2 linked regions of the Homo sapiens genome follow. The protein of the gene in region 1 interacts with the protein of each later gene in a pairwise test. Each region holds a gene or a part of one and is shown in the gene's direction. Other genes may lie near its edges.

What was found. Proteins that work in one complex are often made in the same cells at the same time.
Region 2: the proteins of TNPO3 (region 1) and SSX2 interact in binary tests that used the Homo sapiens proteins (3 or more experiments, as listed by UniProt).

What each region holds. Positions count from the first base shown.
Region 1 is NC_000007.14:128,995,677-129,004,004, reverse strand, and holds part of TNPO3 (transportin-3), read left to right. Parts: intron 1-2,770; coding exon 2,771-2,946; intron 2,947-3,437; coding exon 3,438-3,576; intron 3,577-4,714; exon of another isoform or gene 4,715-4,782; intron 4,783-6,469; coding exon 6,470-6,616; intron 6,617-8,328. UniProt on the Homo sapiens protein: Importin, which transports target proteins into the nucleus. Specifically mediates the nuclear import of splicing factor serine/arginine (SR) proteins, such as RBM4, SFRS1 and SFRS2, by recognizing phosphorylated SR domains.
Region 2 is NC_000023.11:52,696,234-52,704,561, reverse strand, and holds the end of SSX2 (protein SSX2), read left to right. Parts: coding exon 1-65; intron 66-1,931; coding exon 1,932-1,981; intron 1,982-3,983; coding exon 3,984-4,119; intron 4,120-5,630; coding exon of another isoform or gene 5,631-5,776; intron 5,777-6,473; coding exon 6,474-6,574; 3' UTR 6,575-6,578; intron 6,579-7,043; 3' UTR 7,044-7,666; downstream 7,667-8,328.

The sequences.
Region 1 (8,328 bases):
ACGTCAACAAATAGTGTGAAGAGTAATCACTGTAAATAAAGTCATGTCCCACTTTTGTTTAAAAAATGTACATGTGATTACATATAAATGGAGGACAGTGTAGAATACACTTCAAACTTAACAGTGGTAATTTCTGGGAATTGGAATTGGAGTAAGGAAGAAGTTAATTAGTGTTCCAGGATTATATTATCTCCTCTACTGATCCAGTGTCAGGACTCCTCTGTCACTAGTAAGAGTGTTTATCTAGAGTCAGGGTAAAATATATTCTTATTTTTACATTCATTCAGTGGTTTAAAATCATGCTACTTTTTTTCTTTTTAGGGGGAGTGTCACAGGGAGTCAGGGTGTCTCCCTGTCGTCCAGACTGGAGTAGCTCCATTGGCATGATTGTAGCTCACTGTAGTCTCAAACTCCTGGCTTCAAGCAATCTTCCTGCCTCAGCCTCCCAAGTAGCTGGGATATAGGCATGTGCCACCATGCCTGGCTAATTTTTAATTTTTTCTAGAGACAGGGTTTCTCTTTATTGCCCAGGCTAGTCTTGAACCGGCCTCAAGCAGTTCTCCCACCTCAGCCTCCCAAAGCACTGGGATTACAGATGTGAGCCACCACACCTGGCCATGTCACATTTTATTTTGCTGTATGTTTGGACCATGACTTTCTGGTACAACTTTCCCCCAACAGCTCTTAAAAAAAAAAAAAAAAAAAAACCCTAAAAATTAAAATACTTCATATATACAAAAGAATAAGTATGAACACTTACTATTTATTTATTTATTTTTGAGACAGAGTCTCCTCCCTCTGTCGCCCAGGCTGGAGTGCAGTGGCACAATCTCGGCTCACGGCAACCTTCGCCCTCTGGGTTCAAATGATTCTCCTGCCTCAGCCTCCTGAGTAGCTGGGACTACAGGTGTGTGCCACCACACCTGGCTAATTTTTTGTATTTTTTTTTTTTTTTTTTTTTTTTTGAGAGGGAGTCTCGCTCTGTCGCCGGGGCTGGAGTGCAGTGGCGCCATCTTGGCTCACTGCAAGCTCTGCATCCTGGGTTCATGCCATTCTCCTGCCTCAGCCTCCTCAGTAGCTGGGACTACAGGAACCTGACACCACGCCCGGCTAATTTTTTGTATTTTTAGTAGAGATGGGGTTTCACCGTGGTCTCGATCTCCTGACCTCGTGATCTACCGGCCTCAGCCTCCCAAAGTGCTGGGATTACAGGCGTGAGCCACCGCGCCCGGCCAATTTTTTGTATTTTTAGTAGAGACAGGGTTTCACTGTGTTAGCCAGGATGGTCTCGATCTCCTGACCTTGTGATCTGCCCACCTTGGCCTCCCAAAGTGCTGGGATTACAGGTGTGAGCCACCATGCCCAGCTCGAACACTGACTTTTTATAACTTGGTAATATAATGAGAATCTTTGAACCTACTATTCAATCTAAGAATACCTAATAAATAATTTGCATCTTTGTGCTCTCCCAAACCTGCTTATATACCTTTTTGTCCCACTGGAGATTTTAAATATCCTTTTAAAAAAATTATTCAAGGAAGACTAATACGCCCTTACTAAGTGTATTCAACCTCTCAACTGTACTCTCTTCACTAGAAACCCGGGAGGATTCCCTTCTTGGACCTTTTGGTCTGCTCTGATTTGCATCAGTTGTTCTTTAGATCTACTCCCTGTCATCTTGGGACTTGTCTTTACTGTGCTTTCTGGATTAGGTTAGCTGTTTCTCAAACCCCCTCAAATAACTTCTTCAGAAAAGATATAATGGAAAGTAAACTTGGAATTTTTGCATGCCTGAGAACTATTTTTATTTTGCTTTCGATCTTGATTGATGGCTCAGCTAGGTATTAAGTTGTAGGCTGAATATTATTTTCCTTCAAAATTTCAAAGGCCTTGCTCTCCTTTACTAGCATGCATCATTGTTAATGAAAAGTCAGAGAACTCTGAATTCTGCTCCTTACTATTACCTCCTCCTCTCTTCCCCTGAAATTTTACAGACCTTTGTTTAACTCTGGTATTCTGAAATTTCACAATGATGTGTTTAGGTATGTGTCTTTGATACTTGTTGAGCCCTTTCATTTTAGGTAGTACTTGAGTATCAGAAAAAGGATGGAAAAGATTTTTCACACACTAGAATAGGGTAGGGAACACATGGCTTTCCATTTGGAGGGGCTGGTGTGAACAAGAACATGGAGATTAGAAATGATACGACCATGACTTCGGGACAGAAAGGCTGATTTGCTTGACATATAAGGAAATAGAAATAAGATTGGGAAGATTGATGGATGTTGTCTCATGGAAGGCTATGACTTGACTGTTACACATTTAAAGTACATGTTCAGAAAGAGGCTATAATTGAAAGAAAGAAAGAGGCTCTAATTGTTTTCCTATTACATTTATCCATCACTATCTTCAAAGGATTGGTTCCAGGACCACCCACTACCCCTGCCCCTCTGTGCACAGTTTCCAAGAGATGCAGATGCCCAAGTCCCTTATATAAAATGGTGCAGTATTTGCATATAACCTATCCACATCTTCCCATATACTCTAAATCACCTGTAAATTACTTATAATACCTAATACAATGTAAATGCTATGTAAATAGTTGCTATAGGGTAATTTTTAAATTTGTGTTTTTCATTGTATTATTATTTACTTATATTTTGAATATTTTCTATCGATGGTTGATTGAACCCTAGGGTGTGCAGGGCCAACTGTAGATCACTCCTTAGTGATCATACTTCTTGCTTCCCTATTCCTGCTACCTCCCCAGCAACAGGATAAGACCTCGTCTAACCTACATGAAGCTGCTTCGGACTGTGTATGCTCAGCTCTCTATGCCATTGAGAATGTGGAGACTAACTTGCCATTAGCCATGCAACTTTTTCAGGGAGTGCTGACATTGGAGACTGCCTATCATATGGCCGTGGCACGTGAAGATTTAGACAAGTGAGTAATTGTTTAAGTCTGGAGCCCTGGGTTTACCTACAGTCTGGTCATTCTTTTAAGTCACTTTTTATTATTCGTCTGTCATTTGTGATTCTCAGTGATTCTGTAAAGTACAGATAGTGCTTCCTAAAGATGCTCTACTATGCTCTTCTGAACCTAGAGTGGCAAATTGGGTGCAGGGTTTGTAGAATTACCATAGAAAGGTAAGGCTTTAAAAGTTGGAGACAAATTTTAAAATATCAAGTGTGATTTGATGGGAGTTTTTATTCAAATGTTTTAATAATTGAGAATTTGAACTGACAAGTCACTTGCGTAGGAGTGTACGATCTAGGTAAAGGTGTCTGTCATGGGGATTGTGATACAGCATAGTAAATAATCACTAGATGTCCCTTAGACTGAGGAACCTTTTATTTATTTGATTAACTGTGCCTGTATATACTTATAATATCCAGATTTCTGACTCATTGTTCTCATTCCCCTGTCTTCTACAGAGTTCTGAATTACTGCCGTATTTTCACTGAACTATGTGAAACTTTTCTTGAAAAAATTGTTTGTACTCCAGGCCAAGGTCTTGGGGACCTTCGAACTCTGGAGCTGCTGCTTATCTGTGCAGGCCATCCTCAATATGAGGTAGTGTTTATGCTATTCAAAGGCCATTATTCTCCAAGTTGTGTGCTGCATATTATCTATATTTCATTACCTCGTGCCCAAATTTTTATTGTTGAGAAATTACAGTCTTGTTTTTAATTAATGTGATTTCATCTGTTTTGGAATTTTTTAAAAAAATTATATTTGGGTTTCTGCATTGTGTCCATTTCTGTTTTCTTACCTGGTTGGCTGGGCTGTTGTAGGCCCCTCAAGGAACTCGTTAGAAAGCAAGCCTTTCCAATGAACCCCTTGTCTAGCTTGACTTATTCTCTAGAGTGTTACAGCTAAAAAACACCAAATTCTAACTATACCTCCACAAGTCTTAACACCCCCAATTTTTCTCCAAATGATGGATGAGAATGACAAAGGGATTGAAAGGACTTAAGGGTCTCTGTCATTCAGAATCCTTGACATCCTACTTACCGAGGTTTGCTAGATTTTTTAAAATCTCATTTATTTGAGAAGTTTTACCTCTTTATAGTATAAGAAATGAGAAAGGGTCGGGGTTGGTGGCTCACACCTGTAATCCCAGCATTTTGGGAGGCCGAGGTGGGCAGATCACCTGAGGTCAGGAGTTTGAGACCAGCCTGGCCAACATGGTGAAACCCTGTCTCCACTAAAAATATAAAAATTAGTCAGGCGTGGTGGCTCACACCTGTAATATCCCAGCTACTTGGGAGGCTGAGGCAGGAGAATTGCTTGAACCTGGGAGGCAGAGGTTGTAGTGAGCTGAGATCGGGCCACTGCACTCCAGCCTGGGAGACGAGCGAAACTCCGTCTCAAAAAAAAAAAAAAAAGTGAGAAAGAAGTGCTCCCAAGTTGGGCATTGTTTTAAATAGCTCTGTTTTGGATCCTTGATGGGAAAAGGATGGTAGGGATCCTCTTACTGTGCCTTAGGCACAGTGGTCCTGTGACTCTCGGCCTGTTTTCTGTTATCACATACAAGACAACGTTTATTTGTTTTACATAATGTTACGAGGATACCTAGATTTGAATGGAACCCAAAACATTTCTGGGAGAATGTAACACCACGCAGTTATCACTCCTTTAAACAGTACCATATGGAAAAGAGGCTACGAGTAAAATCCCAGGCTTTTTCTCCCTTTCTCTCACACTCAAGGAAACAGGTGAATAAAAGTGACATGAAGCTGAATCAGTTATGTTCAGGAGTTACAGATGGTTTGCCAAGTAAGAAATGTTCTAATCTCAAACATTCAATGAAATGATTTCAGAATTTTCAGAAAAGTACTTTAAAAAAGACTTCTGGCCGGGCGCAGTGGCTCACGCCTGTCAGCACCTTGGGAGGCCGAGGTGGGCAGATCATAAGGTCAGGAGTTCAAGACCAGCCTGACCAACATGATGAAACCCCATCTTTACTAAAAATACAAAAATTAGCTGGGGTGATGGTGCGCACCTGTAATCGCAGCTACTCAGGAGGCTGAGGCAGGAGAATCACTTGAACCCAGGAGGTGGAAGTTGCAGTGAGCCAAGATCACACCACTGTACTCCAGCCTGGGTGACAGAGCAAGACTCCATCTCAAAAAAAATAAATAAATAAAAATAAAAAGACTTCTGGCTGGGCACAGTGGTTTATACCTCTAATGAGGTTCATACCTCTTAACACTTTTGGAGGCTGAGGTGGGAGGATTGCTTGAGCCCATGAGTTCGAGACCAGCCTGGGCAACAAAGCAAGACCTTGTCTCTACAGAAAATTTAAAAAATTAGCTGGGTGTGGTGGTGCACACCTTTCATCCCAGCTACTCAGGAGGCTGAATGGGAGGATCACTTGAGCCCAGGAGTTTGAGGCTGCAGTGAGCCATGATTACACCACTGTACTCCAGCCTAGATGGCAGAGCAAGACCCTGTCGCTACAGAAAATTTTAAAAATTAGCCAGACATGGTGGCAAGCGCCTGTAGTCCTCCTAGCTACTCAGGAGGCTGTGTGGAAGGATTGCTTGAGCCCAGAAGTTCAAGGCTGCAGTGAGCCATGATTGTGCCACTGTGCTCCAGCCTAGGCGACCCTGTCTCTAAAGAAAATATATATATCTTTTGAGACAGGGTCTCACTCTGTTGCCTAGGCTGGAATGCTGTGGTGCAATCACAGCTCACTGTAGCCTCAGCCTCCTGGGCTCAGGTGATCCTCCAACCTCAGCCTCCTGAGTAGCTGGGAATACAGGCATGTGCCACCTACATGCCTGGCTAATTTTTGTATTTTTTTAGAGATGGTGTTTCGCGCCTGGCTGAAATTTGTTTTAAATAAAATAAAACTATGTGGTGGCTCATGCCTGTAGTCCCAGCACTTTGGGAGACCTAGGTGGGAGGATTACTTGAGGGCAGGAGTTCAAAACCATCCTGAGCAAGATGGCAAGGCCCTGTTTCTACTAAAAAAAAAAAAAAAAAAAAAAATTAGCTGAGCTTGGTGGTGTGTACCTGTAGTCCCAGCTACTTGGGAGGCTGAGGCAGGAGGATCACTTGAGCTCAGGAGTTTGAGGCAGCAGTGAACTGTGTTCATTCCACTGCACTCTAGCTGGGGCAACAGAATGAAACTCCGTCTCTAAAAAATAAATAAAAATAAAGACTTCCATGTCTGTTATTGTTTTCTCTAAATTCAAAATTCAGTATACTTTTGGAGGCATTACCTCAGGACTAAATGGAATGTAAAGCCAGTCATTCTAAATGGAGATTTGGGCCTAACGTGGGAAGACAATTTGGGGAGATAATAGTAAATCTGCTAGAGAAAAGGTGACTTCTTAACTGGCTCCACTCATATTATTTAAAAATATATCTTTCTTCCTATATGGTCGTGGTGATAATAAAATGTCTTCTTATTCTATTCCTTTCCCATTCAAATAAATCATCTCTTTTAACCTAACAGGTAGTAGAAATTTCATTTAACTTTTGGTACCGACTGGGGGAACATTTGTACAAAACTAACGATGAAGTTATTCATGGCATCTTCAAAGCTTACATTCAGAGGCTGCTTCACGCCTTGGCTCGACACTGCCAGCTGGAACCAGACCATGTAAGTTCCCTTCTCTACCTCTTCAAATCTTAATTTCTTCCTCTTGTCAGTGCCAACTTGAAAAGGAACTGAGAAGATAGATAATAAACCTGGCTGGGCACCCTGGCTCATGCCTGTAGTCCAGCACTTTGGGAGGCCAAGGCAGATGAATCGTTAGAGCCCAGGAATTCAAGACCAGCCTGGGCAACATAGGGAATCCCCTGTCTCTACAAAAAGAAATAAAAGAAAATTAGCTGGGCCTGGTGGCACACGCCTGTAGTCCTAGCTACTCAGGAAGCTGAGTTGGGAGGATTGGCAGACTCTACAGCTTATACTGAAGAAGTCAGTACCAGTATAATCTGTTAGGTCTATTTAGGGAAAAAAAAAAGCAAAACACTCCAGCTAAACCAGTAATTCTTTTCCTGGGAGTATATCTTAAATCTGCAGAAGAAAAAAACAGCTATTTTATATACAAAATGTTATCTGTAAAAGTAAAAATTATAAACCCATGTACAGCAGTATAACAAGAGTTATATGAATTATATAAGAAGAGTTATGATTTAGCAACTTGATGCAGCAATTAAAAGGTAGTGAAATGATGATATGGTAAGAGAAAAATCAGAATGTAAAATTATGTACTCTTTTTTTTTTTTTTTTTTTTTTTTTTGAGACGGAGTCTCGCTCTGTCACCCAGGCTGGAGTGCAGTGGCGTGATCTCTGCTCACTGCAAACTCTGCCTCCTGGGTTCACGCCATTCTCCTGTCTCAGCCTCCCGAGTAGCTGGGATTACAGGCACCCGCCACCATGCCAGGCTAATTATTTGTATATTTAGTAGAGATGGGGTTTCACCGTGTTAGCCAGGATGGTCTCGATCTCCTGACCTCATGATCCACCCACCTCAGCCTCCCAAAGTGCTGAGATTACAGGTGTGAGCCACCGCCCCTGGCCAAAATTTTGTACCTTATTAAATAGTAGAAAATAAGTGGTTAGATGAAAACTAATACAAAAGTGAAATATTTGTGTGTATGATTTTGCCCCATGAAGATACACATTTTTTAAATCTTATTTATACTGATTTTGTAGTTTAAAAGAATATAGAAATCTATTTGCTTAGAAAAAAATACTAGAAAATTATTAGTTTATTAGAAAACTCTTCAAACATCATGCTTAGTCTCTTCAAATTTTGCCACATCGATTTCATCCTGTTGGTTGGTTGAATCCGTCCTTTAATCTAGGACCTGCAGTAAGTTTTATTGCTTACAATTAAATCCCACGTGCTGTTCTCTTAATTTTAATGTTAGTATTGTGTTTGAGTCATGGTATTTTGTATCTCCACACAACCTTAGTCATGATTTAGTCTGGTGGTTTTCAAACTGCACCCACCCCCGCTATTTTTTAAAGTGAAGAATCCAACTGGGCGTGGTGGCTCATGCCTGTAATCCCAGCACTTTGGGAGGCCGAGGCGGGTGGATCACTTGAGGTCAGGAATTTGAGACCGGCCTGGCCAACGTGGCAAAACCCCGTCTCTACTAAAAATACAAAAATTAGCTGGGCATGGTGGCAGGTTCCTGTAATCCCAGCTACTCAGGAGGCTGAGGCAGGAGAATCACTTGAACCCAGGAGGTGGAGGTTGCAGTGAGCCAAGATTGCGCCACTGCACTCCAGCCTGGGCAGTAGAGCAAGACTCAGTCTCAAAAAAATAAAATAAAGTGAAGACTCCTGTCTTCAACCAC
Region 2 (8,328 bases), on another chromosome or scaffold:
TAATAAACGGGCCGAAGACTTCCAGGGGAATGATTTGGATAATGACCCTAACCGTGGGAATCAGGGTGAGTAGATGGGAAGGGGCTGGAAAGGGTCTCCTCAAGCCCAGCTGCTTTTCAGCTCAGCTACCTGAGAAAGATCCTCAGGCATTTGTTCCCTCATACACATCAGGGCTGAGTGAAAAAAAAAAAAAAAATTGCATGCAGAAAGTTAACTACAGAGGCCATTCATATAAAATTTTAAAACATGCAAAAGAAGAATATATATTTTATGGATAATAAGTAAATGGTAAATGTATACAAACATGAATGTGAATAAAAAGCCATCAAATTAAGGTGACTGGCTGTAAGTGGAGGAGGGAGGGAGGGCGGGCAGGGATTACTGAGTGCGGCACAGACAGCTTCAGCTGTGACTTGTTGATAGTGTGTTTTGTTTGTTTTTGTTTTTGAGATGGAGTTTCACTCTTCTCGGCCAGGGTAGAGTGCAATAAGGCAATCTCAGCTCACTCCAACTTTCACCTCCTGGGTTCAAGTGATTCTCCTGCCTCAGCCTCCCGAGTAGCTGGGGTTACAGGCACGTGCCCCCACACCCAGCTCATTTTTTAATTTATGGTAGAGACGGGGTTTCACCATGTTGGCCAGGCTGGTCTCAAACTTCCTGACCTCAGGTGATCCACCCGCCTCAGCCTTCCAAAGTGCTGGGATTACAACTGTGAGCTACCACGCCCGGCCTATTTGCAGTTTTTCTAATATTCTGAATAAATAAATCAGACCTAACATAGCTGTGGGGTAATGTTGAGATCCGACTGGACTCAATATTATTCCCCATACTTTTCTGTGTGTTTGAAATATTTCTTTTTTAAACGACATGTTGTTCTTCCTAAGCACCGTTAATGAATCAAAGGACTGCTAAAAAAATGCTACAAGTGAAAAAAAAAAAAGAAAGAAAGAAAGAAAGTGTTAAAACTGTAGATCCGCCAAAAACTTCCAGAGTTTGTTTCATTAACAGCATGTAGGTATTGGATAGGTATCTTAGGAGTGAGGGTGATGAACACATTATGTAATAAAGATCGCTGTTTCTCTGTATTGGTTTATCAAAACCAAATAGTCTTCTCATTCCCAAAGAACCCTGATTCTCCGTAATGAGCTTGGAAGAGAGTTTGAAGGAGTGATCCCTTATCCAACACACAGAGAGCTTTCCCACTTGTCAGAGAGCAGAGATAACATAGGGTGAAAAAAAGATAGGTTCTTGGGTAGAGAGCTTTGTACATTTCAGGAATATAAAGGGGACATATGTATTTACTTGCTCTTCTACTCTGACAACATAATTATAAGACAAGGTCAGAATGTCCAAACCGTCTCCAATAGACCTATTACTCGCCAACTAAACAGGCCAGATTCTACAATCTCCCGCAATCACTATAAGAGACCTGAAAAGCCAGTGCTTGAGTATCTGCCAAGTTTTGACAGTAAAGGAGTGTCTTTATACTGAAAATATTTCAGAGCCACTGGACCAAATCATCCATGGTTCATCACACATTTAACAGCTTAATTCACATACCATAAGATTCACCCATTTGAAGTGTACAATGATTTTCAGTTGTTGCACATCTTGAGTGGATACAGTTCAGATTCCTAACCAATCAATTTAATTATTTGGGAAAAAGTAAAAGATATGTAATGGAATAAGATGAGACTGTGATGGGGTGTAGTCCCCATGTGATAAACCATGAGATGGAAAATTCTGAATTGATGCCACAGATAAATGCACCAACCATGACTAAACATAATTCAGAAGCAAATCTGAAATAACTCCTCAACAATGAGTGGACTCATAACCCTCTGCTGCAGAATACCCTGATGCGACAGAAGTCTCTCTAGAGTTTGGAAACCTTTACCAACAAAGAAAAATTCTGATGTATTCTCTTTCAGTTGAACGTCCTCAGATGACTTTCGGCAGGCTCCAGGGAATCTCCCCGAAGGTGAGTGTCTCTCAGATCTAAAGGACCAGAGAACCTTTGTCCCTCCACGGATGCGAACACTGGTAAGAGTGGGAGAATATCAAAAATGCCCTCACTGCCTTCTTCTCCCCATGTCTATCACAACACCTGATGTCGCACCGACGGCTTGATAGTACCAACAGTTGCGATTGTTAATACTTCTTTTGTTTTCATAGTGATGCCAGATACTATTTCAAGCAGTTCACATGGATTAATTTATTTAATCCTTAAGAAGACATTGTTTCTATTATCTCCAAATAATAATGAGTCACACACTTCAGTTTTCATCCATATGAAAGCCATGTGACTTGACACAAATCTTCTAAGTTCTCTGAGCTCCAGATTCCTGGTCCATGAAATGGAAGTAAAGAATTATAGTTCATGTTTTAGATCATAGTTATCAGCAACATAATAATAAAATGAGGCTATCGTGGTACAGAGATGTTAAAGAATTTTCCTGGGGCGCAGTGGCAGTGGTAGTCTAATCCAGAGCTCCAAGCCATTTAAAGCTCATTCACATTTGCATTTGTCTATGAAGTTCAGATGTTGCTCACTAGGGCTTCACCCCATAGGGCCTGCTGGTGCTTCCAATGAGACACCCACTCTCTCAACAGGAAGGACCATCTGGTCTCTGCTGTGTTGCTGGGGCCACTTGCATGGCTTAGGAATCACTTTGATTGTTGGCCCCTCCCTACTGTGAGCTCCTTGAGTGCCTTGTCTGCACCTGGGGCATCTGGGAAGGCCCAGTCCCAGCCCAGGGGATCCCTCGGAGGCCCCTGAATGAGTGATCCCACAAGTGCAGATTCAACTCTGGTTTGGAGGGTAAAGGGATCTGGGAGTTGGGTTGCCAGTGTGGAGACTGAATTCAAAGAAGGATTGTGAAAGGTATTAATTGTTATTATTACGACATTTAAACAGTGTTTACAAGCTCAGAGAGGACTTTACTGTAGGCTATTTGACATGTATGGTTCACTATTTCATAAGGGAGGAAGCTGAATGAAAAGTAGCTTAAGAGCCGGGCGCGGTGGCTCACGACTGTAATCCCAGCACTTTGGGAGGCTGAGGCGGGCAGATCACGAGGTCAAGAGATCGAGACCATCCTGCCCAACATGGTGAAACCGTGTCTCTACTAAAAATACAAAACTTAGCGGGGCGTGGTAGTGCCTGCCTGTAGTCCCAGATACTCTGGAGGCTAAGGAAGGAGAATCGCTTAAACGCGGGAGTCGGATGTTGCCTTGAGCCGATATCATGCCACGGCACCCCAGTCTGGCGACACAGTGAGACTCCGTCTCAAAAAAAAAAAAAAAAAAAAAAAAAAAGAAAGAAAGAAAGAAAAAAAAAAGTAGCTTAAGATTGTTGGTCAGTGACACATCCCAATGCAACCAGAATTGGTATGGGTACCACCTCACTGAATTCCACATTGAATGTCGGTGCCCCAGTAGGGTAGTATGTCATATCTGGTACTGCTTTGTTTGCTGCCTAGATTAATTTCGGCAAACCATTTCTTTCCCTCTCCCTTCCCTGTATTCATCTCCCCACACCATCTTTCCCAGCAGTGTTTTGTCGCCTCCCTATGTTTTTACATTTACTCTCCCAGCAGCTGTCTAGAAGCTTATATGGGATCCCTTGTATTTTACAGAACCTCTTCCCTTTGTAGACCTTGTGAATTCTTAGAATGCTACTCTTCTCCAAATCATCTGTATATCACACTCTCAATTACATGGAGATTTTTGCTGTTTGCAAGAATGTCAGTCCTAAAAGAGTGGGAAGATAAGCATTCTATCCCTGGAAACCATATTCACTTAGGCCATTCCTTTCCCTTCTAACCTCCCCTCCCAGGTTTCTCCTAATTTAGGCCTGTGTAACTCTCCCAGTGTTGTTGAGAACATTGAATAAGCTAATGCATGTGAAGACCCTTTGTAAGCTCAAAAGCACTATAGATATGTCACTGATACTATTTATCTGTGATCTTCACATTATAAAGATCATGCCCAAGAAGCCAGCAGAGGAAGGAAATGATTCGGAGGAAGTGCCAGAAGCATCTGGCCCACAAAATGATGGGAAAGAGCTGTGCCCCCCGGGAAAACCAACTACCTCTGAGAAGATTCACGAGAGATCTGGTAAGAGGAAGCAATTCAGGAACAATCCCTCTGGCTTCCCTGGCGATGTTCAGGTATATGGACTGGGTGTGTGGCATGGATCCCAGATAACCCTGGGTCCAGACTGGGCTGAGGAGCTCGCCCAGCTCCAGATGAGATGTTAGACATGACTTCCAGAGATAGACTTGATTTGTCACCCATAGAAAAAACCATGTGACTTGGGGCAAGTCTTTCAGATTTTCTCAGCTCCAGATTCCTAGTCCGTAAGATGGAAATAAGGAATCATAGTTCATAAATTGTTTGGAGACATTAAATTTAATCTAGAAGGCCTGATGACATGAAAGGTGCTCAAGCAATTCTATCTGTGATTACCTGGGATCATTACCTGATTAAGACTCAGCTCAATGCCATGCCTGTTACCCAATACAGGTGTACTTCAGAGATACTGCAGGTTCAGTTCCAGACCACTGCAATAAAGTGAGTCACACACGTTGTTTTTTGGTTTGGCAGCGCATAAAAACATTATGTTTATACTATAGTGTAGTCTACTAAGTGTGCGATAGCGTTGTGTCTAAAAATGTATATACCTTAATTTAAAAATAATTCTTTGTTAAAAATGCTAACAATCTTCTGAGCCTTCAGTGAGTCACACTCTTTTTGCTGGTGGAGGGTCTTGCCTCGGTGTTGATGGCTGCTGGCTGATCAAGGTGGTGGTTGCTGAAGGGTGGAGTGGCTGTGGCAGTTTCTTAAAAGAACACAACAGTGAAATTTGCCACATCGATTAGCTCTCCGTTTCATGAAGGATTTCTCTGTAGTATGTGATGCTATTGGATAGCATTTTACCCACAGTAGAACTTCTTTCAAAGTTGAAATCAATCCTCTCTAGCTATGAAAGTCCTAGAAGGCATCTCCTTCCAATAGAAGGCTATTTTATCTACATTGAAAATCTGTTGTTTCATGTAGCCACCTTCAACAGTGATCTTAGCTAGATCTTCTGGATAACTTGCTGCAGCTTCTCCATCAGGGTTTGCTGCTTCACCTTGCACTTTTATGTTATGGAAACGGCTTCATTCCTTAAACCTCATGAACCAACCTCTGCTAGCTTCACATGTTTCTCCTGCAGCTTCTTCACCTCTCTCAGCATTCATGGACTTGAAGAGAGTTCTGGTCTTGCTCTGAATTAGACTTTGGCTTAAGGGAATGTTGTGACTGGTTTCGTCTTCTATCCTGACCACTCAGACTTCCTCTATTTGAGCAGTAAGGCAGTTTTGCTTTCTTATTCGTGTGTTCACTGGAGTATTAGTATTATTATTTCCTTCAAGAACTTTTCCTTTGCATTCACAGCTTGGCTGTTTGGCGCAATAGGCCTAGCTTTCAGCCTGTCTTGGCTTTCAGCATGCTTCCTCACTAAGCTTAGCCATTTCTAGCTTGTGATTTAGAGTGAGAGACATGCGACTCTTCCTTTCATTTGAACACTTAGCGGCCATTGTAAGGTTGTTAATAATCCTCATTTCAGTATTGCTGTGTCTCAGGAAATAGGGAGGCCCAAGAAAAGGAAGAGAGACGCGGAACAGCTCATCGGTGGAGCAGTCAGAACACACACAACATTGGTCGATTCAGTTTGTCAACTTCTATGGGTGCAGTTCATGGTACCCCCAAAACAATTACACACAACAGGGTGATTATAGTCAATAATAACTTAATTGTACATTAAAAAAAAAACTAAAAGTGTAAATGGATTGTTTGTAACACAAGGATAAATGCTTGAGGATGGATACCCTATTTTCCATGATGTGATTATTACCCATTGCATGCCTGTATCAAAGCATCTCATGTACCCCATAAGAATATACACCTGCTGCGTACCCACAAAATAAAGAACAAAAATTATTTTAAAACACTAAAAAACAATAAAATCAATTGCAGTAATAATATCAAAGCTCACCGATCACAGATCACTATAGCAGATATAATAATAATGGAAAAGTGTAAAATTGGTGAGAATTAAAAAAAAAAATTGCAGCATCTGCGAAGCAGTATGAACATGAGGTGCAACAAAACAAGGTACGCCTGTGTGGCCTTAACAAATACGTGCTGGATGAAAGGAGGTATGGGGGAATGTTCCCGTAAGTGAAGAGGTTGGGAATCTAAGCCTGAGAAGGGAAGGAGCCAGAAGCTAAAACTTTAATTGGCATTTGGCCTATGTTGGTGTGGATCTAAGGTCTCAGCCTCTCTAAGCCAGAGAATGTGAAAAACTGGATGAAGAAGGCCCATGGGCACTTGGGAGGAAGCAGGCATCTCCTTTTTTTGAGTAAACAGAGCCTAACACTCTCCAACCTACCCAACCCTCACTTTCCAACTATTCTCCATCACAGGACCCAAAAGGGGGGAACATGCCTGGACCCACAGACTGCGTGAGAGAAAACAGCTGGTGATTTATGAAGAGATCAGCGACCCTGAGGAAGATGACGAGTAACTCCGTAAGAGAACCTTCCACTCATCCCCCACATCCCTGCAGACGTGCTATTCTGTTATGATACTGGTATCCCATCTGTCACTTGCTCCCCAAATCATTCCCTTCTTACAATTTTCTACTGTACAGCATTGAGGCTGAACGATGAGAGATTTCCCATGCTCTTTCTACTCCCTGCCCTGTATATATCCGGGGATCCTCCCTACCCAGGATGCTGTGGGGTCCCAAACCCCAAGTAAGCCCTGATATGCGGGCCACACCTTTCTCTAGCCTAGGAATTGATAACCCAGGCGAGGAAGTCACTGTGGCATGAACAGATGGTTCACTTCGAGGAACCGTGGAAGGCGTGTGCAGGTCCTGAGATAGGGCAGAATCGGAGTGTGCAGGGTCTGCAGGTCAGGAGGAGTTGAGATTGCGTTGCCACGTGGTGGGAACTCACTGCCACTTATTTCCTTCTCTCTTCTTGCCTCAGCCTCAGGGATACGACACATGCCCATGATGAGAAGCAGAACGTGGTGACCTTTCACGAACATGGGCATGGCTGCGGACCCCTCGTCATCAGGTGCATAGCAAGTGAAAGCAAGTGTTCACAACAGTGAAAAGTTGAGCGTCATTTTTCTTAGTGTGCCAAGAGTTCGATGTTAGCGTTTACGTTGTATTTTCTTACACTGTGTCATTCTGTTAGATACTAACATTTTCATTGATGAGCAAGACATACTTAATGCATATTTTGGTTTGTGTATCCATGCACCTACCTTAGAAAACAAGTATTGTCGGTTACCTCTGCATGGAACAGCATTACCCTCCTCTCTCCCCAGATGTGACTACTGAGGGCAGTTCTGAGTGTTTAATTTCAGATTTTTTCCTCTGCATTTACACACACACGCACACAAACCACACCACACACACACACACACACACACACACACACACACACACACACCAAGTACCAGTATAAGCATCTGCCATCTGCTTTTCCCATTGCCATGCGTCCTGGTCAAGCTCCCCTCACTCTGTTTCCTGGTCAGCATGTACTCCCCTCATCCGATTCCCCTGTAGCAGTCACTGACAGTTAATAAACCTTTGCAAACGTTCCCCAGTTGTTTGCTCGTGCCATTATTGTGCACACAGCTCTGTGCACGTGTGTGCATATTTCTTTAGGAAAGATTCTTAGAAGTGGAATTGCTGTGTCAAAGGAGTCATTTATTCAACAAAACACTAATGAGTGCGTCCTCGTGCTGAGCGCTGTTCTAGGTGCTGGAGCGACGTCAGGGAACAAGGCAGACAGGAGTTCCTGACCCCCGTTCTAGAGGAGGATGTTTCCAGTTGTTGGGTTTTGTTTGTTTGTTTCTTCTAGAGATGGTGGTCTTGCTCTGTCCAGGCTAGAGTGCAGTGGCATGATCATAGCTCAGTGCAGCCTTGAACTCCTGGGCTCAAGCAATCCTCCGTCCTCAGCCTCCAGAGAAGCTGTGACTACAGGCGTGCACCATCATGATCCACTAAGTTTTTTAAGGTTTTGTCAAGAAAGTCTCTCTATGTTACCCAGGCTGGACTTAAACTCCTGGGCCAAAGCAATCCTCCCACCTTGGTCTCCTAAAGTGTTGGGATTACAGGCGTGAGCCGCAGCACCTGTCCTCCAGTTTTTATTTTGATACAGACTATACACTTCAGTCCTGGAGCAGGATTCTGTAGCAGGTGGTTGGGCATCTTGGCCTTTGCTCTCTGAATGATTTTCGGTTTCAAGGTCTGGGACGGTC